3 linked regions of the Homo sapiens genome follow. The protein of the gene in region 1 interacts with the protein of each later gene in a biochemical or structural test. Each region holds a gene or a part of one and is shown on either strand. Other genes may lie near its edges.

The links.
Region 2: the proteins of SYNJ1 (region 1) and AP2A1 form a complex in vitro, tested with the Homo sapiens proteins (one study listed by BioGRID).
Region 3: the proteins of SYNJ1 (region 1) and PACSIN1 form a complex in vitro, tested with the Homo sapiens proteins (one study listed by BioGRID).

The regions. Positions count from the first base shown.
Region 1 is NC_000021.9:32,724,697-32,733,121, forward strand, and holds the start of SYNJ1 (synaptojanin-1), read right to left. Parts: upstream 3,250-8,425; intron 3,244-3,249; exon of another isoform or gene 3,141-3,243; intron 2,222-3,140; coding exon of another isoform or gene 2,200-2,221; coding exon 2,076-2,199; intron 1-2,075. UniProt on the Homo sapiens protein: Phosphatase that acts on various phosphoinositides, including phosphatidylinositol 4-phosphate, phosphatidylinositol (4,5)-bisphosphate and phosphatidylinositol (3,4,5)-trisphosphate. Has a role in clathrin-mediated endocytosis.
Region 2 is NC_000019.10:49,798,001-49,805,000, forward strand, and holds part of AP2A1 (AP-2 complex subunit alpha-1), read left to right. Parts: intron 1-801; coding exon 802-952; intron 953-1,326; coding exon 1,327-1,495; intron 1,496-1,604; exon of another isoform or gene 1,605-1,628; coding exon 1,629-1,766; exon of another isoform or gene 1,767-1,967; coding exon 1,968-2,150; intron 2,151-2,960; coding exon 2,961-3,058; intron 3,059-3,389; coding exon 3,390-3,621; intron 3,622-3,721; coding exon 3,722-3,889; intron 3,890-3,980; coding exon 3,981-4,141; intron 4,142-4,533; coding exon of another isoform or gene 4,534-4,599; intron 4,600-4,948; coding exon 4,949-5,005; intron 5,006-5,106; coding exon 5,107-5,189; intron 5,190-5,286; coding exon 5,287-5,376; intron 5,377-7,000.
Region 3 is NC_000006.12:34,469,076-34,476,075, reverse strand, and holds part of PACSIN1 (protein kinase C and casein kinase substrate in neurons protein 1), read right to left. Parts: intron 1-7,000. UniProt on the Homo sapiens protein: Plays a role in the reorganization of the microtubule cytoskeleton via its interaction with MAPT; this decreases microtubule stability and inhibits MAPT-induced microtubule polymerization.

The DNA.
Region 1 (8,425 bases):
ACCTTGGTATCACTCCAAAATGAAGGCCAAATTAATTTTAAAAGTCAAATGACTTAAGAAGGTTTGTTAGCTCTTAAATATTAATATGTTAAGTATTACTGTAAAGCTTATAGTAGGAAAGATAATGACATTCCAAGAGATTAGACATCCATTTATGTTAGCTTTACAGAAAGAGTCAATATTCCAACATTTTTTTTCTGAATTGCTCACATAGTCTAAATCTAATGAAAATAGAATAGCTTAGACAATATTTTAATATTCTTTCTCCTTAGAATGCACATTAATGCCAAAATAAATGTTTTAGGGCCTTTTGGTAAAAACAAACCATTATTTGGCATAAAAGACGGCTGCTGGAGGTTTTGGAAATATTATTATTCTTAGGTTTCCTAACCTTGGAGTAAAGTGTAGCAATAATTCTAAAAACTATAAGTAATACACAGTTTGTAGCTGAACATTTGACTTGCTATTATGAGTAATCATAATTAAAGAAACATTTAGAATTTATACAAGATTAGTAAGTCAGGTAACGTCACCAAAAAACACAAGCAGCTGAAAAATGCTTCCCATACAAAAACAAACATTCGCCCCACCCAACCCCCACAATATTTTAATTCAGAATTCATCAGTATAAGAATTCCACTTGTAGTAAAAAATATATGCAATGGAAATTAATACTGTACCAAGGTATAGTTTAAATACAAAAAACAACTTGAAGCAATTAAGTCCATACTGATTGAGTATAGCCAATATTATTTATACTTATTTCTTGGAAGACCTAGAGCCCCTTCTCCTTCATTCAAAAAATATATGTACCAAATATATATTTCTTATATACTGTTCTTTGCTTAAGACTTTTCATTATGTCACTATCTTTTTCCCCATCAAGATGCAATTATACTATTTAGTCAAGTTAACACTTTAACTGACATTAATATTCTACATGCAAAGAGTGAGGTCTTATGCTCTTCATTTATTGAGGCTGGAGAAAGCTTAGTAGTTTAAGATATTTAAGGGCTTATATTTGTAAGTATGCCTTTCAAACACTATTTTTAATTTATAAAGATATAATCAGTAACTAAACTAATCCCAACACTAGGATTATTTGCCTAAATCATATATATGTGTATATATAATCATATACTTTTTTTTCTTTTTAATTTTTGAAACAGGGTCTCACTGTGTTGCCCAAGCTGGAGCGCAGTGGCGAGATCAAGGCTCACTGCAGTCTCGACCTTCCAGACTCAATCAATCCGCCCACCTCAGCCTCCCAAGTAGCGGGGACTAAAGGGCACACGACGGAGCCGAACTACTTTTTGTATTTTTTGTACAGAAAGGGTTTCACCACGCTGCCCAGACTGGTCTCAAACTCCCCGCCTCAAGCGATCAGCCCCCCTTGGCCTCCCAAAGTGCTGGGACTACAGGCGTGAGCCCCCACACCTGGCATATCTTACATTAAGAAAGACCCAGTATCCAAATTAATTTTAATTTCATCCATCTGCCCCTAAAATAACTCAAACATTACTAATCTATTTTTCTTGTGGTACAATAGTCCTTTTCTTTAAATTAGACTATCAAAATACTTTTAAAAATAATACAAAATCAATCATGTATCTCACATGAAAATCTAGAGGTTGTTTACAATTCCCTTAATGAAAACACAACGGCCATAACAGAAATACTCCAACAATATTGGATAATATTAGATAATACCTACTACTATAACTGACCTACCAGTAAATATGTCAAGCAAGACACTGTATGGGTTTATGTGATACATGATACAAACTGAAACAATATTTCTTTGGAAAAAACATTTACTTTTAGAAGCAGCAGCAGAACCCAAGAAAGCAAAATCCTGCAACCAAAACCTGCATCTCCCTGCACCCCCTCAACAAAAACCTGTTAACAAAAAGTTTGCAGGAAAATAAGTTTGATTAAAAGGAAATACAAGCATAATCTGCTAGAGGAAATACAGTGAAAGGGTTGTCGGGCTCTTTTCTAAAAAATGGTTGCATCTGAATTGTTTCAAATCAAAACAGAGACCATGACAAATTGGGCTCTAACAGATGACTTACAGAGCACAGCGACAGCCCCAGACTCGAACATGAGACATTCTTCCTTATGCCTAGTTTCCACTATGAGGCTGAAAGGTGGGGGATCCAATTTGTGATAGATCCGGAATCCTTTACTGAACGCCATTCTCCTTTCTTCGGAGGCAGCCCTGCGAAAACCAAGCAAAGCAAAGCAAATGAAGCTGATGTTTCCTTCTGCAGCAAGGACTGCAAAGCATCCAAAAGTCCCTCCCCGCCAGGTTTTGATGGGGGGTTGGGGTGGGAAAAAACAGACAGCTCTGGGAGAAAATGGCTTTTTCCAAAAGATAAGTCGTCACTTAATTTTACCAAAAAGCAAGAGGAAAAGCTATCAATTCTCATACCAAGGCAAGACAAGGTTTTAGCACTGTAAGTCAATCAACGGTCTGGTTGAGTTTCCCGTTTAATTTATGCTTACTGAAAGGAAAAATTTTGAGCGTATTTCGTCCGGAGCTGTTTATCAGCTTCCTGCTTCAAGATCTGTCACTACGTTGAAAGGGAACCTATTTGGAAACTTCAAGCAGTTCCTTCGAGGTGAAAGGAGCGGAGGTGGGAGGGAAGGGTGACAAGGCTGGTTCAAAGCTCCTTAGGGGGCAGGAGAAGGAAAAGGATTATCCCACGCGACAGGCTCTCCCGGGGGTGGCGATGAAGGGCAAGGGAAAAGGCACAGGTTACCGCCGCCTCTCCTGCCCCGGGCTACCGCCGGCTGGGGGGACGGCAGGCGGGGCCGATAAATACGAATGGCCACCCGGGAAGAGTCACGACTCGGGGCACCGACCCGACTGGGGCTCCTCGGGGGTCCCGGGCAGTCGACTGCCCGGGAAAGCGGCTCCTTCTCGGAGAGACGGAAGAGCCGAGCAGCCCAAACCCTCCATTTATGCGCCAGAAGAGATACCCCGGCGCCCAGGCGGATTCGGTTCGTTCCCGCGGGCGGGCTGACAGCCGCTGTCACCACAGCCCCCAGCCTGACGCGGCACCCCGCACAACCAGTGGTCTGCTCACAACCCCGCCCGTCCTCCCGCACCCCGGCTGCTCGCGGTCGCCCCTCACCGCTCCCGCTGACGCTGCGGAGGCAGAGACTGGTCTTGGAGGCGTCCGCCCGCCCGGCTGCCCGTGGGTCTGGCCGCAGCAGCTCCCCGCCCCCCGCCGGCTTGCTCACCTCTTCCTCCGGCTCCTCCTCCTCCTTCTCCCGCAGCCGCCGCCACAGCCGCCGGGAGCGTCACTTCCGCTCCAGCAGGCCCATCTCTTCCGCATTGCGCCGCGGCCGGGGGCGGAAGATCCGCCCCGCGCGAGGGAAGGGGCGGGGCATCAGGAGGGAGACCACGCCCACTCTGCGCCGACCGGCTGGGCCTGGCACCCGCGGGCGGCCCCAGCCTCAGTCTCCAGCTACCTTTGCCTCCTGCGGCCGCCCCCAGGCAGAGCTGCGATCCCACCGCCGGGGGTGCAGGGAGAGGGAAGATCTGGCCTCCTTGGTCCTTTTGCGTGGGCTCTTCAGAGCGTGAGCGCCGGGGAGGGACTCCGGAGAAAAGCTTGGGGGGCTGCGTATTGCTGCTCCCCAAGCTGGGCGTCAGGACCAACCCCGCCGCCCCCACGGGCCTGACGGGAGAGGAGGAAGGGCTCGGGACGGTCGGCTCGCCGAGCCAACCAGGTGGCGCCTGAAGAGCTGTCCATGGTGTCGACAGCCCAGCAAACGGCACCGAGTTCCTAGTCTGAGTGTCTGGATAGGTAGCAGAAGAAAAACTAATGCCTGCTCTGGGACAGTTCTGTTCGGTGCCTTTTCTTGTGTGTTCTGGAGCTCACAGGGTTCTATCGAAGAGTGCTTAGGTGTATACGATGGAGAGTGGGACGTCACAAACCAGGATCTCAAGGCTGAGTCCAACAAAACATGGCCGTAGGGAGGCCACGACAGCTGTGGTTGTCACCGACGGATGAATAGCTTTTGCCAACCGTGGAATTTAGTAACTAAAGGCACCTAACCCTTTTATCTCATCCTCATTTTTCAACAAATGGTGCTTCCTGGCTAATATCAGCGTGTCCCATAGATTTCTGCTTCCATTGAATAGACCTAATAAGAAAGAGAATGAAGTCAAAGCCAACAGGGCAGAAAGAAATTGAAAACCTGAAGAACCCAGCACTCAAACTGTCTCCACTTGCGTTTGCTTTTTCTTTACCTCTTCTCCTTCTGGTTTTCAACAGCCAAAGCAGGATTTAAATTTGGTTATGTTGCAAAAATCATTTCCCTCTTCAGGCCCTGTCATGTGACTTGATTTTTTCGTCCATTTTAGAGAAGCTGTACCCACCCTGGTTTCAGGACACGGAACTAAATTTATTAGAAAAGAAGCCACTTCAAGTCATGAAGGAGAAACACAAAGATTCTTGGATTTAGTTCTAAGAACTAGAGGGGATTTCTATGTCAGTACTGTCTCAGAAAAAACTGTTGATATCAAATGTGTTGCTTGAGAAGTACCTTTTTTTTTTTGAGACGGAGTCTCGCTCTGTCCGCCCAGGCTAGAGTGCAGTGGCGCGATCTCGGCTCACTGCAAGCTCCGCCTCCCGGGTTCACGCCGTTCTCCTGCCTCAGCCTCCCGAGTAGCTGGGATTACAGGTGCCCACCACCACGCCCGGCTAATTTTTGTATTTTTAGTAGAGACAGGGTTTCACCGTGTTAGCCAGGATGGTCTCGATCTCCTGACCTCGTGATCCACCCGCCTCGGCCTCCCAAAGTGCTGGGATAACAGGCGTGAGCCATCGCGCCCGGCCGAGAGGTACCTTTTATGACAACTGAAATCATTCAGTTTCAAGAGGAGTTGGGTACTGAAACCAAACTTGCTTACTCCAAAGCCCAAAATCCTTTCCACCATGCCTGTGTGTCTGTAAGGCTACACTAGAAATGCTTCCTTTCTTATAGTGGGAAGCATGGGTACTAAGCTCTTTTACGAACAAGTGTTCTGCATATTCCTGGTTCCTTTTTATTTTGGACTGAGGAGATTTAGGTCAAAATTTCTGGGTTCTGGGTTGGAATTCCAGCTTCTTTCTTCAAATTAAACTGGGGGGTAGCAAGACTTATTCCTAGATTTGTTAGAAGGCCACAGCTTTTCCACATCTCATTTTAGTCATGAAAAAGACACATGCCCAGAGTTTGAAAAACATAAAGGCAATTTGACTAGTGGCTTGATTGGTTCTATCTTCTTTTTCTTGTCCCTCTTTCCTATTTATACTTCTACTTTTGTTACAGCATTTGACAATAGTTGGAAAAATTTTCACTGACCTTGAAATGTCTTTGGGATAGGGTGACTTAAAATATAGGTTAAGTGGCATACACAAACTTCTTAGTGAGATCCTAAGGGCCTACAGAGACAGGCTGACACCAACTCAACCCTTGAAACTGTGCAATGAAGAGCCTGTGGGAGGCTAAAAAACGCTACTTCAAAAAGAGATCCTTGTCTGTGAATGTTAATTTAGGTTTACAGATTTGATTAAGGGTCTTGAGATTATTTTCAATTATCCAGGTGGGCCCTAGAGCCCTAGATGCAATCATAAGTGTCCTTATAACAGGGAGGCAGAGGAAAATTAAACACGCACACAGGAGAGAGAGAGAGAGAAAAAAAAGTGATGTGAAGACAGCAGCAGAGATTGGAGCGATGTGGCCATAGCCAAGCTATGTCAGCAGCCATCAGAAGTTGGAAGAGGCAAGGAAGGATTTGAGCCTAGAGCCTTTGGAAGGAGCATGGCCCTGTTGGTTCTGGCCTCCAGAACTGCAAGAAAATACATTTTTGTTGTTTTAAACCACCCAGTTCATGGTAATTTGTAACACCAGCTACAAGAAATTAACACAAGGCTGATGTGACTTTCCATCAGGAGAGAGACAGCCCCAGGTAGGTGTTTCAGATATCACATCCAATAGAACAAATTAAAGACAAACACCCTAAATTCTAGATGTTGATTTGTGAGCAAGTTATTTCTCCTATGGGCAACTCTAGTTGAAATATGCAATTCATTATGTTGAAACATGGAATTGTTATTTTCATAGGTTAAAAAAAAATCACATAGTGGCAATATAGTAGTAGTGCTCGTTTTTTGTTTTTTGTTTTTTTGTCAAAAATGCTAGACAACATGGAAGATCAGGGAAATATTAACAGTCTGATTCAGTAACCTTTAACAGCTTCTTTTCAGGTTACACAGGCTAAGCTAACTTTTATATCAGGATCAGGATCTGCAGAGTTATTAGTATAGTGCTCTGCAGATCCTGGTCCTAGTATAGCAGGATCTGCAGACCCTAGTTGTACCTGGCCATGTTCCCCACCAATGACTGAGAAAGAAATGGCTCGAACAGAAAACAGTGGTCTTGAAAGGCAACGCAACAGTAGGTTACAAATAGCATTAGCTTTTTCTTTAAAGAAATTCATTGTAACCAGTGAAGGATAAGATTTTAAATTAGAAAAATGGAAATCCTATGAATAAAAAACTAGTAAGCTTGAGAGCAGAATCACTGTGGAAAAAAAACAGATTGAAAAATAACTTGCAGGTATCATAGACAGGAAATTGCCACTAGAGAAAACAGGAAACTTGTGATAGATAAAAATGAAGTATTTTCATTTGGAACAAGAGACCAACTGAAGAGAGATCAAGTGAAGGGGGTTTATTTTAATGAAACACAAAGATTCTTGTGGAAATCAAAGTGCCGGAGCCAGAAACAGGGCTCAACCTTCAAGATTAGAGCTGTATTCAAGTTGTTCAAGTTGGCTCTCGGTCCCAAAGCAACAGCAATGTCACTAAGGTTACAAGTAAAAGGTAAGCTTTCATGATCAAAATGTTTTTGCAAAGTAGCTTAAAATGGTTTCTGCAGTGTTTTGTCAAAACTTTTCTCATACATTTTCCTAAAGATATTTAGCAAGAGCCTAAGAAGTCATGTGCTAGGGATTTTCATTGTACTGAATGATTGTATCCTTTAAGCCGCTGCTGGAGTTAGGACTGACAGGAACGCAGTACAAATTACTGGGGGCTAGAGTCCCAAAGCAGGCCAGGGACCAGTCTACATTGCATGTCGATACCAATCCCATATAACAATATTCAGCCTGTGTTTGGGCAGTCTGAGGCAGCTTTTAGCAGCTGTGAACCCAGTATCCATGGACAGTTTCATTTCTGGAGGGCAGTCTTCAAAACGTTTATGAAAGTACACCTCCCATTCAGATATGTTTTTTTCTTCCTACATGTAGTGCTAGTGTTTTTCTCATTTTCATTTACTTGAAACAACAGATCAAATGTTTTGTCATAATCAGTGAATGGCAAGACTCCCTTTATTACATGGGTATTACCATGTTAGAGATAAGAAGAGCTCTTGTAACCATTAACAACCACTACAATGTAGCAACTTACAGTTTCCTATTTTATATTGCAGCTCTGTAACATTTGACTACTTTTGTAAGAGTTTCATGATTTCAAGGATGATTATTAGCATTTTCAATTTTTTGGCCAATTCTGGGTGCTGGTAATGTTACCACTGCAGGCAACTATGGCTCTACTCAACTGAAGACCTCTTATAGGCAATGTGGACCATACCTGCTTTCCTGAGAGATCAGCAAATTGGGTTTGGTCATCAGGAAATTCTGTCTCTCAGATCTCATACTAGCAAGGAGACCCCTGGTTGTACCTGTCAGAGCTGCCAGTTGGCCCTGCTGAAACTTTAGAACTGCACCAATGTCTAAGACTTTCATCCTCCTTCCTTCACACAGGTGAGACCTGCCTGCCTCATTGTCTGACAGCTTTCCCAGCCTCCTCCAGGCTCCCCTCCGTTTTCTCTTATACGCATTCCCCCAATAAACTTCCTGTACATTTAATACCATCTCAGTGTCTGCTCCCAGGAGGACCCTAACTGACACACTGGGGCATTTAGCCTCCAATTCCTTTTCTCCCTTGGCTGAGATCTGTTCCAGGAAGTATCTCCAGGACACTCCAGCCTGTTGCACAGGCCAAAGAAAAGCCCTCAGGCAGAGGAGCAAATACTTGCAAGAGGACACCAGTGGCAAGAACAGGGACATGGTGAGACTTCGACATCATTGGCTACAGTAGTACTAGTCACTCTTGACTGTGGTTTATGTTGTTTCAATAAAGTAGCTTTCCTTCTCAAAAACATTTGTCACCTATTTTGGAGTTAATTCAGAGGATTGCTCCAAAAGAAAAAACTGAAAAGCAAAACCAGCTTTATTAAAATGTAACCCTCTGGATTTATCTTTTGATAATTCCTTTCATAAGAAATAATGTCCTTAAGCTATTTCAGGAATAAAAATGTTCTGCTTGGGATAGAAAAACCATTGTTTTATGTACCCTACATCAAA
Region 2 (7,000 bases), on another chromosome or scaffold:
AGATGCCATTGCTGTGTGTCCCATGGTGGCGACTGGGCTCATTGCTGCCTTGTGGTGTATTTTAGCTTGTTCCTCTATCTGGTGAATTTTCCTGCGGAAAATTCTGCAGAAAAATCTGCGGAACCATTTTTTGCTGGAACGCTTGACAGCTCTTGCATACACTTGAAAACACGTCACATTCTAGGAAACGTGGTGATTGGTGCTCCTGTGAGCTGCTGGCTGGCATCTGTCAGTGGTGGAGAGCTCTGGGGGGTGAGGGGGCACCTGGTTGAGCCTTGTCTCCTTTGGCCTCCCAGCCTCTAGGCCAGGAGGATGGCACCGAGTGTGCCTGCAGTGGCCTCTTGCTGAATGGACACTTGGGTGGGTGGCTTGTGCATTTTTGTCAGGGGCTGCTCAGCACTCACACCAGTCCTTGGGAAGGCCTGGGTTTGGGGGCACCTCTGGGGAAGGTTCCTGGAGCTTCCTTTGCTCTGTGAGAAACCTAAGGAGCCTCAGAGCTGCAGATGAGGAAACTGAGGCTCACATGGTGCCACCTCTTGCCCGAGAGGGTCAGAGCAGGAGGAGAGCCCAGGTCTGGGGATAGATCTTGTGTCTCCAGAGGTGCCTTGTCTCACCATCTCTGCTGGGCTGGGAAGAGGTTGAGGGAGCAGAGACCCTGGCCCTGAGCTGCAGAATTCTCGAGTGTCAGAGGCACCCCGAGCTCCTCCTTTGGAAGACAGGAGCTGGGGCATGGCCACCACCCCAGCAGGTGTGCCAGGTGGGCAGGACACTCAGCCGGGGGCGTCCCCTTCGTTTCCCCAGAGGATGCGGCTGTGAAGGGGCGGCTGGTGGAATGTCTGGAGACTGTGCTCAACAAGGCCCAGGAGCCCCCCAAATCCAAGAAGGTGCAGCATTCCAACGCCAAGAACGCCATCCTCTTCGAGACCATCAGCCTCATCATCCACTATGACAGGTGCCCGCCTGGGCCTATCAGGGCCTGATGCCTGGGGCCAGGAAAGAGGGGCATGGAGGCCCGGACTCCTGAGTCCTAGGCAGAGGGCAGGGAATCTTGACTTTTAGGTAGGGTAGGAGGAGGATGGGGCTGTGAAGTGTCACCTGTGAGGTTGGTGCTGGGGCCCTTCCTGGGGGCAGAATTGCTAGGTATCTTTCTCTGGGCTCAAAGGCCCAGTTGTCTGGGTCACTGGAGGTGCAGTACTGCGATGCAAGGCCGGCAAGGTTAAGACCTGGATCCTTGGGGGCTGTGAGATGGGTCAGCTGGGGCCCGAGTCCTCCACCTTCTCCTGTCAGTTTCTCTCACCATCCCTCTCTTGTGGCCCCTGCTGGCAGTGAGCCCAACCTCCTGGTTCGGGCCTGCAACCAGCTGGGCCAGTTCCTGCAGCACCGGGAGACCAACCTGCGCTACCTGGCCCTGGAGAGCATGTGCACGCTGGCCAGCTCCGAGTTCTCCCATGAAGCCGTCAAGACGCACATTGACACCGTCATCAATGCCCTCAAGGTGTGAGCCCTTGGAGCCCACCCCGGGCCTGCCACCCCCCTCAGAAAGACCAGAGGCTCAGAGGCCCTTGGGTGGCCAACCCTGTGCCAACAGGGAGTCTAAAACACACCTGGGCTCTGCTCTCCGCCCTCAGACGGAGCGGGACGTCAGCGTGCGGCAGCGGGCGGCTGACCTCCTCTACGCCATGTGTGACCGGAGCAATGCCAAGCAGATCGTGTCGGAGATGCTGCGGTACCTGGAGACGGCAGACTACGCCATCCGCGAGGAGATCGTGAGTGCTGTGGGGTGCGGGCTGGACTCTTGGGTCTGAGGCAGGAGGTGGCTGGGGGCCTGGATTCCTAAGTCTAAGGGAGGAGGGGCTGGGGCCTGGACTCCTGGGTCTCCAGATGGGGGCAGTGGTGAGCCCAGATCCAGGTGAGTGAAAGCCCGACATGGCCTGCGGCACACTCTCTCTCACACGCCCCGGCGGCAGGTCCTGAAGGTGGCCATCCTGGCCGAGAAGTACGCCGTGGACTACAGCTGGTACGTGGACACCATCCTCAACCTCATCCGCATTGCGGGCGACTACGTGAGTGAGGAGGTGTGGTACCGTGTGCTACAGATCGTCACCAACCGTGATGACGTCCAGGGCTATGCCGCCAAGACCGTCTTTGAGGTCAGCATCCCTGACCCTGACCCTATGACCCCACGACAGGACCTAGAGGCAGAGCAAGGATGGCCGGGGCCGTGGCGCCTGCCAGCCCGCAGCCACCCTCCTTCTCCTGCACTGCCGTGACCTCAAAATGGGGCCTCTGCCTCTCTGGGCCAACCCAGGGGACCCAGGGCTATGGTCTCATGGGCCTGATGTGAGGAGTCCCCAGGGCATGGGCATGGGGCACCCAGTGTGCAGTCCTGGCCCCCGGATCTCGGTAGTTTCCCTCTGCCCCAGGAAAGGGGCCCCACACAGTCCTGTTTTTTGTTTGTTTGTTTGTTTGTTTCTGGAGACGGAGTCTCACTCTGTTGCCCAGGCTGGAGTGGGGAGTGAGTGCCGTGGTGCGATCTCGGCTCACTGCAACCTCGGCCTCCCAGCGTCAAGCCATTCTCCTGCCTCAGCCTCCCCAGTAGCTGGTACTACAGGCACGCGCCACCACACCCAGCTAATTTGTTTGTATTTTTAGTAGAGACGGGGTTTCACCATGTTACCCAGGCTGGTTTGAAACTCCTGAGCTCAGGCAATCTGCCCGCCTCGGCCTCCCAAAGTACCAGGATTACAGGCATGAGCCACTGCTTCCGGCCCACAGCCCTGTTTTACTTCCTGTGTGAGCTTGGGCCCGTCACTCAACCTTTCTGTGACTCAGTTTCCCACCTATAACCCCACCTGCAGCAGAGCTTTCAGTGTTCCACCAGTCAGTAGGTGGCTGCACCCACCGATCCCGGAGAGGGCGCTCATTGTTGTCCTCTCCACGCCCTTCCCCACCCCACTCAGGCGCTCCAGGCCCCTGCCTGTCACGAGAACATGGTGAAGGTTGGCGGCTACATCCTTGGGGAGTTTGGGAACCTGATTGCTGGGGACCCCCGCTCCAGGTGAGGGAGCCTCAGCCTGCAGGGGAGAACACACATGCTTCTGAGGGGTCCAGGGCTTGGGGGATCCCCAGGGGTCTCAGGGCAGGCAGTGATGGGCTCCCATCCTCTCGGCCTCCACCCCAATCCACCTAGCAGGGTAAGAAAGGAGCTTAGTCCCAGGATCGTGGACAGAGTGTGACTGCGGCCCCTGTCTGGTGCCTGGGGAGGGCCACTCCCCTCCAGCAGCTTGGGGTCCTGGGACGGGTCCATCCTAGGGAGGGGCACCTCTCGAGGGGGTTTCTGGGAGAGGGCAGTGGAACCTGGCCCCGCTGACACCCACTCCTGCACACAGCCCCCCAGTGCAGTTCTCCCTGCTCCACTCCAAGTTCCATCTGTGCAGCGTGGCCACGCGGGCGCTGCTGCTGTCCACCTACATCAAGTTCATCAACCTCTTCCCCGAGACCAAGGCCACCATCCAGGGCGTCCTGCGGGCCGGCTCCCAGCTGCGCAATGCTGACGTGGAGCTGCAGCAGCGAGCCGTGGAGTACCTCACCCTCAGCTCAGTGGCCAGCACCGACGTCCTGGTCAGAGCCCTGTCCCCCCACCCCACCCCTCTTGCACACCCCCTTCCCGCCCTCCCCTCCTCCTGACCCGAACTGACCTTCCCCACCCCGACCGCGCCAGGCCACGGTGCTGGAGGAGATGCCGCCCTTCCCCGAGCGCGAGTCGTCCATCCTGGCCAAGCTGAAACGCAAGAAGGGGCCAGGGGCCGGCAGCGCCCTGGACGATGGCCGGAGGGACCCCAGCAGCAACGACATCAACGGGGGCATGGAGCCCACCCCCAGCACTGTGGTGAGTCCCCTGGGGTGGGCCCTGCCAGGGTGCCTGGGGCTGGGTCCTGCCGGGCGCCGCCTGTCCTCACCGTGACCTGCGCTTCCTACAGTCGACGCCCTCGCCCTCCGCCGACCTCCTGGGGCTGCGGGCAGCCCCTCCCCCGGCAGCACCCCCGGCTTCTGCAGGAGCAGGGAACCTTCTGGTGGACGTCTTCGATGGCCCGGCCGCCCAGCCCAGCCTGGGGCCCACCCCCGAGGAGGCCTTCCTCAGGTAGCACCCCCTGGGCCCGGGCCCCTTCTCGCGGCCACCCCCAGGGCTGTCCCTTCTCGGCCTCTGTCCCCGTTTTCCCTGAGCCCCTCCCCCGCCCCCGACTCGCTCCTCTCTCCATCCTGATGCCTTCGCCAGCCCTGGCTGCTGCCTCCCCTGCCCCAGCCTCCCTGCTCACGCCCTCCCTCTGCCACTCTGGACTCCGCCGACCCTGGCCACCCTTCGTTGTCTCCTTTCCTGTCACCGTTTCTCAGCCTGCTCTTCCTTTTCTCCTTCTCTCCTTCCCTCTTCCGTCCCTCCCTCTCTGTCTCTCTTCTGCCCTCTCGCTGCCTATGTGGAATTGGCTGCCTGCCACGCCTGTCTTCTCTTGTCTGCTCTGGGATTGGATGGCTCAGCGAGCTGGAGCCGCCTGCCCCCGAGAGCCCCATGGCTTTGCTGGCTGACCCAGCTCCAGCTGCTGAGTAAGGGGTGGCCTGGGGTGGGAGGTCGGTCGGGGGGGCGGACTCGGGTGTCCCCAGGGAGAGTTAGGGGACTGGGAGCCCTCGTCAACGGGTTCCTGATGAGCAGCAGAGGCAGGGACTTGGAGGAAAGGGAAACTTGGTGTCTGCCGATGCGGGGGCACGGGCCAGGGTTCTATTCCCATTGGAGGCCACTGCTGGATGGATGCGAGGTTCCTCGAGGCTCTGTGAGGGGTCTGGATATGTGGTTCTGGGGTTCTGTCCTTAGGGCTTGTTCTCGCACTCAATCGCTCTGGGCCTTTGCCCCTCCCCACCAAGTTCCTTCCCATCTCACTCTGCTCCATGCCTCCAGCCCAGGTCCTGAGGACATCGGCCCTCCCATTCCGGAAGCCGATGAGTTGCTGAATAAGTGAGTCCTGGGAGTGGTGGGGGAGGGGAACGGGACAGGTGCGGAGCCCAGGCCAGGTGCAGACAGGCACCCCCGTCATCTTGCGCCCCCTGCCCCCTCAGGTTTGTGTGTAAGAACAACGGGGTCCTGTTCGAGAACCAGCTGCTGCAGATCGGAGTCAAGTCAGAGTTCCGACAGAACCTGGGTGTGTCCCGGGGGACTGTGGGAATGGGTCGGAGGGAGACCTTGGGGAAGGGGTCAGAGGGACTCAGATGGAGCTCTGCCTCCCCCACCTACTGCAGGCCGCATGTATCTCTTCTATGGCAACAAGACCTCGGTGCAGTTCCAGAATTTCTCACCCACTGTGGTTCACCCGGGAGACCTCCAGACTCATATCCTCTCAGGCCCGGCCCAGCCTCCTGCCTCTCCACGTCGGCCTTCCTCACCGTGGGGAAGCCGGCTGACCCAGGTCCACACTTCTCTTCAGCCTCTCTTGGGCACGCAATTAGTTCTCTGAGATTGAGTGTCTGCATCTGTTAAGATGGGGGTGGGATTCCTTCCCCCAGGACAGGGGATGACAGTGAAGTGGTGTGTGGGAGGCTTTACTTCCAGAACTCCACCTGCTCCAGGCCTCATTTTGTCCCTGTCTGGCACCTTCCGTGTCCTGCCATCGTCCTCCACTGGGCTCCATGTCATGATGCCAGCACCGCCTGCACTCAGGAGCCAGGCCTGCGGGTCCAGACGCTGATCAGGCCTGATCTGGGCTGAGTCACTTTGCCTCTCTGGGCTCTCCTGTCCCCGCTGTGAAGTGTATGTAGACCCTCCTCTTCCTCATAGGGTTATTGTGAAGATCAGAGTGTCTGGAAAACCCTGGAAGGGCGGCTGGAGGTATCAGTCCCCCCTGCCCGTTCTCTGGGCCTCCATTGCCACATTCATGAAATTAGAAAAGCTCGACCTGAAAACTCCTTCTGGCCGGGCATGGGGGCTCACACCTGTAATCCCAGCACTGGCAGGCTGAGGCCAGTGGATCATTTGAGGTCAGGAGTTCAAGACCAGCCTGGCCAACATGGTGAAACCCCATCTCCACTAAAAATACAAAAATCAGCTGGGTGGTAGTGGCACGCGACTGTAATCCCAGCTACTCAGGAGGCTGAGACAGGAGAATCGCTTGAGCCTGGGAGGTGGTGGTTGTGGTGAGCCGAGATTGTACCACTACACTCCAGTCTGGGCGACAGTCTCAAAAAAAAGAAAAAGAAAAGAAAAAATTCCTTCTTCGGTCGGGCACGGTGGCTCACGCCTGTAATCCTAGCACTTTGAGTGGCCAAGGTGGTTGGATCACGAGGTCAGGAGATCGAGACCATTCTGGCTAACATGGTGAAACCCCTTCTCTACTAAAAATACAAAAAATTAGCCGGGCGTGGTGGTGGGCGCCTGTAGTCCCAGCTACTCGGGAGGCTGAGGCAGGAGAGTGGCGTGAACCCAGGAGGCGAAGTTGCAGTAAGCCGAGATTGCGCCGCTGCACTCCAGCCTGGGCGACAGCGAGACTCCGTCTCAGGAAAAAAAAAAAAAAAAATTCCTTCTTTCATAATTTCCAGAGGCTCGTGCAGGCAGCTCAGTGGAGGCAGTGACAAAAGAACATGAGACCCAGGCCTTCCCAGTGGGCTACTGACACGGATGCAGATGATGATAACACTAATTGCTACCATCTTTGTGTACTTACCATGTGCCGGGCACACAGACAAGTACTTGTGATGGATTCTTTTCTTTTCTTTTTTTAAATAGAGTTGAGGCCTCGCTATGTTGCCCAGGCTGGTCTCAAACTCCTGGGCTCAGTGATCCTCCCCACCTTGGCCTCCCAAAGTGCTGGATTACAGGCGTGAGCCGCCACACCCGGCTGGATTATTTCATCAACTCCTGAGGACATTTTACACATGTCCTTGTGTTGAGACAGGGCCTCACTCACCCAAGCTGGAATGCAGTGGCATGAACACTGCTCACTGCAGCCTCGAACTTCTG
Region 3 (7,000 bases), on another chromosome or scaffold:
TGAATGGCCTGGTGCCTAGTTCAGCACACAGCACACCACACGCAATACATATTCATTTAACATTCAAAAGGATGAATGCTTGAGAGTAAAACTACAAACCAGCAGCCACTAAGACGATTTGTCCGCTAATCAGAGGATCCTGAGTAAGAATTTGAGCTTAAATCTAACCCCTTCCTGGCTGTGCAACCTCAAGCAAGTCATTTCAGCCCTAAGAACCTCAGCTTCCTCCTCTAGGAAATGGGAATAATTATCATTAATAAATACCATCCCCACAGGCTTGTGGCAAGGCTCAAAGCAGAAATGGATATGGAAGTAGAGGGGGTACTGCCAGTGTCCTTCTATCAGGTGGGGTACCCATCTCTCAGCAGCTGTGGGTGCTGGCTGCTAGCAGCTCACAGCTGCCCCCTTCCCCTGAGAGCTGCCCTTGGCTTACAGGAGCTGCCTCATCTGGAGATGCAGGGGGAGGCTAGGCCCTTCCCCGGGAGCAGCTTGCAGACAATGACCACCAGCTAAGGGGCTACAAAGGCCTGGCCCCTTGTCTGGAGGAAGGTAACCCTGGGAGACTGGCTGTTCATAATCTAGAGCTCTCCGTGGGATCCTAGCTGTAAGCAAATCTTTTCCCGCTCTAATATGAGCATGCCTGCAATAAATCATTTGCCCGGGAATCCTTGTCTCAGCTCTGCTTCTAGAAGACCAGACTTGAGACAGGAAGTATTTTGTAAACAATGACACACTAGGCACAAATATGTGTTTTTTTAATTTTTTTTTTAATTTTAGGAAACATTGAAAGTAGAGGAGCTAGCAATGTGAGAGGAGGAGGCGGTCAGCTCTGTGGGCAGGGGTGAGGGGTAGGGGAAGCCCAGTCATGCTGCTCTGCCCCCACCCAAACCCTGCCTTCATGGAATGCTTGGGCAGGTAAGGGGGACAGACAAGAAACCAACAAGAGCATAATGTCAGGGATAAGTGCTATGAAGATGATAAAGTAGAATCAGGAGATGGGGGACAACGAGGGCTGTTTTTGATAAGGTGGTCTGGGAGGCCTCTCTGAGGGGGTGATGTGGGTGGAGATGTGAACATCATGAGCCATGTAGGCCTTTGGGGAAGAGAATTCCAGGCATAGGGAATAGGAGTGCAAAGGCCCTGGGGCAGGGTGTTTGATGGGTCCAAGAAATGACCTGGGGATCAGTGAGGCTAGGATGTATGAGAGAAGGTCTGAGGTATTGGGCAGCCGGATCACATGGGGTCTTGCAGGCAATTATAGGGCTTTTTTTTTTTTTTTTTTTTTCTGAGACAGAGTCTTGCTCTGTCACCCAGGCTGGATGCAGTGGTATGATCTCAGCTCACTGCAACCTCTGCCTCCCAGGTTTGAGGGATTCTCCTGCCTCAGGCTCCTGAGTAGCTGGGACTACAGGTGTGTGCCATCACACCTGGCTAATTTTTGTAATTTTAGTACAGATGGGGTTTCACCATGTTGGCCAGGCTGGTCTGAAACCCCTGACCTCAGGTGATCCACCTGCCTCGGCCTCCCAAAGTGCTGGGATTACAGGTGTGAGCCACTGCATCTAGCCTGTTATAGGATTCTGGGCTTTATTCTGAATGGGAGGGGAGTCATTGAAGAGCTTTAGCAGAGGAAGGATGTGATCTGATTTAAGTTTTAAAGGACCTTTGGCTGGTGAGGCAAGGACGGGGCAGGAAGACCAGGTAGAGGCTGCTGCAAAGATCTAGGAGAGGATAGTGGAGGCTCAGAAGGGAAGGCAGCAATGGAGGTGACAAGAAGTGGGTGGATTCTGGGTGTTTTGAATGTAGAATTGAAGGACTTGTTGATGACTAAATGAGGTGTCAGGGACAGACAAATGCAACTCCCAATTTACAGAGAGGACAGAAGAACATACTAAATAACACCACAGGGATGCAATCAACAAAATCCAGTCTGCAGGAAACACAGCAGGACAAACCACCTGCTTCCTCCCATAGATAAACTGCAAAAGAATAAGAAAAGATGGAGAGGAGAACTGTGGATTGAAAGAGACTAAGACATATCAACCAATCATAACGTGTGAACTTTACCTGGAACTTGATTTAAACAATTTAAAAAACAAAAAGACATGTCTGAGACAACAGGGAATGTGAATACTAAGTGAATATTTGACTATATAAAGGAATTAATACTTCTTAGGTATAATAATGGTATTGTGATTGTGTTAGAAAAAGTCCTTATCTTTTAGAGAAATATCTTGATTGAGATGAGATTGGACATGTGTTGGTATCTGTTGATGCTAAGCCATGAGTATATGACTGTTATATAACATTTTCTCTACTTCTGTAAATGCTTATAATATTTCACAATAAAAAGTTTGCAAATAAAAGACAGAAGAGGAAACAGAATCCAAGGGAGGGGGTTGAGTGGCCCTAGGCCCCTCAGTGAGTCAGTGTCAGGGCCAGGACCTCAGCCTGGACCCCCAACCCCCAGCCCTCCAGCCCTGCCTCGGCTGCCCCTCTTGTCCTCAGTGGCTGGTCAAGGCTAGACCCCGGGAACCCAGTGATGAAATGTGTGACCTCAGGGAAGGCCCAGATTAGGCAGAGTGGGGCTAAGGGATGCAGGGTCTTTGCCAGGCCCTGCAAGGAGAAGCAGCCCTGGGCCACCTGTCCCACAAGGTCCAATGAGGCTGATCATTTAAAGTGCCCTGCAGCAGCAATCCAAGCTGGCTGCCCCACCAGCCTCACGACCCATGTCCTCTCTCGTGTTCCTATGCTGATTTCCTCCCCAGCCCCTGAGACCACCACTCACATTCCAGCCTTTGCATCTTTGTCCCTGCTGTCACTCTGCCTGGAATGTACCCCCCCGCCCCCCGCCCCGTCTCTGGATCTGACCAGCCTTTCCTTCCAGGTCTGCCTTCTGCAGAAGACAACCCTCCTTCAGTCTTCCAGAACACACCTGCCTCCAGTCTCTGAGACAAGAGATTATCCCCATTCCTCGACGACAGGTGCTGAGGCAGAGAGGCTCACAAGCACAGCTTCTGGAGCCAGACTGCATGGCTGTGAATCTGGCTCAGCCACTTACTGTGTGACCTCAGGCAAGTCACTTAACTTCAGTTGCCCCATCTGTAAAATGGGGATAACCCCATGAGCTTACTAAGAGGACTAAATGAGTTATAAATATGGATAAACAAAAGAGCGCCTGGCACATGTCAGGGATCCCCGGCCCCTCCTTTGTGCCCCTACAAGACTCCCCAGTGCTACACAACCACCACTTTGCCAGATACCCCACTTCTGCCATACTCCTTCTACAGCCCTCCTGATACCCAGATGTTACCTTACCTTACCCCCTTTCCCATCCCGCCAGGTTTCAGGCACCACAGGCCTGGGAGGAGGGAGAGGGAATATAAGCCCATGAGGGGACCAGTTAGGAACCAACCACAGATAAAAACTCTCCAAACACACGTGGCAGCATGTGACTCACATGCCATCAGATTAAGGGGAATGGAGTTTACGTGCTCATTTTTTTAGGTTTCTAAGAAAAAAATTCCCAGTATCATCAAGTGCAGTTTTAATTGTTTTCTTCATGAGTAATGATATTTGTTTATAAAATGCAAACAGCACAGAATGGCTGAAATAAAGAGGACGCATTCTCCCTCCAGATCCCTGCGATAGGCCTCAGCCCAGAGGCAAGCTCTAATCACAATCAGGTATGCAGCCTTCTACACATTGTTATGTAAATATGAACAGAGAAGAACATATGTACATGTACTTTAAAAATTGTATCATACTACACACATTGTTCTTTTTTTTTTTTTTTTTTTTTTTGAGACAGAGTCTGGCTCTGTCTCCCAGGCTGGAGTGCAGTGGCCCGATCTCGGCTCACTTCAACCTCCGCCTCCTGGGCTCAAGCGATTCTCCTGCCTCAGCCTCCTGAGTAGCTGGGACTACAGGCGTCCTTCACCACACCCAGGTAATTTTTGTATTTTTAGTAGAGACAGGGGTTTCACCATATTGGCCAGGTTGGTCTCGAACTCCTGACCTTGACTACACACATTGTTCTACAAAGCCACTTGCTTTAACTTATCAGTACGTGATGACCATCTTTCCACACTGGTAATAAGCTCCGCCCCATCTTGTCTCAGTGTCCCCAAGCACCTAAAGTGGTGCCTGGCAGGCAGCGACATTCAGAGATCCATTGATTAAATCCCAGAACGAACAACTGCCCGAAATCACAGCGTACAAAGAGGTCTTGACTTTGTCACTGGTCCTCCTGACAGACATCTAGCTTTGCTACACTGACTGTCTCTGCCCAGCTAATCTTTGCACCCTGCTCAGAGTGTACCTGTGGAATAAGTCCCAAAAAGTGGAATTGCCAAGTCAAAACTGTGACCACTGTTGCCAAAAACACAGTGCTAACGTATGCTCCCCGACTGACGTGAGAGTTCTAGTTTCCCACGCCCTCCGCCAAATGAGAGCTTTCTTAGGAGGACTTTTATTTCTCAAATGGATTACCCCTATTTAGTGATTCCACCCTTGATCACCACATCTCCCTTTGTCCCACCTGCATAAATGAGAAAACTATTGTTTTATTATTTCTCAGCAGCACTAAGGAGCCAAAATCCACAAATAAGGGACTACTCTCTAGCCAGTATAGAAAGTTAACAGATGGGAAATTTGGAACATCTCACCTGTTTCTAAAAATGGATGTGTTAATGTTTTAAAACTGTCAACTTCAAACAAGTATCTATTGATTCTTCCCCCACACTCAAGAACAGAAAATTCTCACCCTCTCTCTCCACTCCTCCCTACCCCAGCCTACAGTGGCCACATTTAGTCAATAAAAATTCAGGGCCAGGCGCGGTGGCTCATGCCTGTAATCCCAGCACTTTGGGAGGCTGAGGCGGGCAGATCACTTGAGGTCAGGAGTTTGAGACCAGCCTGGCCAACATGGCGAAACCCCATCTCTACTAAAAATACAGAAAAATTAGCTGGGTGTGGTGGCCGGCACCTGTAATCTCAGCTACTCAGGAGGCTGAGGCAGGAGAATCACTTGAACCTGGGAGGCGGAGGTTGCAGTGAGCCTAGATCGCAGCCTTGCACTCAAGCCTGGGCGACAAGAGCAAAACTCCATCTCAAAAATAAATAAATAAAATAAAATAAAAATTCAGGACACCTAGTTAAATCTGAATTTCAGATAAATGACAAATACAGTTTTTTATTAAAAATATGTCCTATGCAATGTTTGGGACATACTTAGACTAAAAAACAACAAAAACACATTTGTTGTTTTTCTGAAATTTAAAATTACCTGAGTATGCTGCATTTTATATAGAAAGACTACCCTAGCCCCTACCCAGCATTTTAATATCAAGTTATTTTTAGCCTGGGCAACACAGTAAGACCCCATCTCTACAATAAAATTGAAAAATTAGCCAGGCATGGTAGCACTCAGCTACTCAGGAGGCTGAATGGGAGGATCCCTTGGGCCCGGGAGGTCGAGGCTGCAGTGAGCTATGATGGTGTCACTCACTCCAGCCTGGGTGACAGAGCAAGACCCTGCCTCTAAAAAGAAAATAATTATAACAATATCGAGTGATTTTAAAATAATAGCCAAGGTAGGCCAGGTGCGGTGGCTCACACCTGTAATCCCAGCACTTTGGGAGGCCGAGGCGGGTGGATCACGAGGTCAGGAGTTCAAGACCAGCCTGGCCAAGATAGTGAAACCCTGTCTTTACTAAAAATACAAAAATTAGCCGGGCGTGGTGGTGGGCGCCTGTAATCCCAGCTACTCAGGAGGCTGAGGCAGAGAATTGCTTGAACCCGGAGGTGGAGGTTGCAATGAGCCAAGATCGCGCCACTGCACTCCAGCCTGGGTAACAGAGTGAGACTCCGTCTCAAAAATAATAATAATAATAATAATAGCCAAGGCCTCCCCTGCCCTCCCAGTTTTCAGGTATCCTGCAGCCCCTCACACCCAAGGTTGAGGTCTTCAGAGACAGCACCCAGGGGAGGGTGGAGGGGAGCCCCCGACCCCAGTCTCCAGCCCAGCCCTCCCCTCCAGGCCACCCTGCCCCTGGCTGGAAACCAGCCACAAAGTGTCCCCAGCAGGTGGGTCTGAAGTGGCTAATAGGTTTTCTTCATTTGGCTTTCCAGTACATTCTAAATTGCTCCCCACAGACACGCTCCTTTTCTGGAAACGGCACCAGCAACTTCCCTGGCATTAGAGGTCCTGTCTCCCCAGAGCCAGCTGAGGCCAGGCTCCGGTTGATCTTGTCCCTTCAGCCCACCTCTGGGTTCCTCCCAACCCATCTTTCCTGGTGGTGAACACTACCTGTTGCCCCAGGGGGTGGGTGCTGTCAGCAGGCGACCTCAGTGGGCAGATGCTTCAGGGACTGCTGCTACCACAGAGCCACCTGCAGGAAGGCACACCCAAACCCTGTGCCTGATGGGCGCAGGATGCTGGGGTCTAGGGCCTGACTCTCACAGGCAAATGGACATGACCTGAAAGGCCACTCTAGCCCCAGGGCACCCTGTTGCCTGTTGGGCTGCATCAGAGTCCACTTCCCCTTCATCCAATCCCACTTCCTTCCCTGCTTTCCACAGTGAAGCTCCGGGACCCCTCCTCTACCTGCCTGCCAATCCTCACGGCTACTTCCTGGGACCCTGACCTGCCCGCCAAGTCCCCAGCCCAGACCTCCCCTCCGGTCCATCCTGCCCCTGGCTGGAAATCAGTTACGAAGTGCCCATGGTGGGTGGGTCTGATGTGGCTAATGGGCTTCCTTCATTCGGCTTTCTAGTACATTCTAAATTGCCCACAGCAAACCTATATTACTTTGGTAATAAGAAAAAATAATAAAAGCTATTTTTCTTTAAGAAAAATGTAAAACCAAACCAAGCAGCATCCTTCTTATCTGGTATACCCACTCGTCCCCCAACCCCTCCACCTGGTTCCCCAGGGAGGGCCCCCCAAATCAGTGAATGCCCCCACCCCTCATGTCCTCTCCTGTCCCTTCTGTCCTTC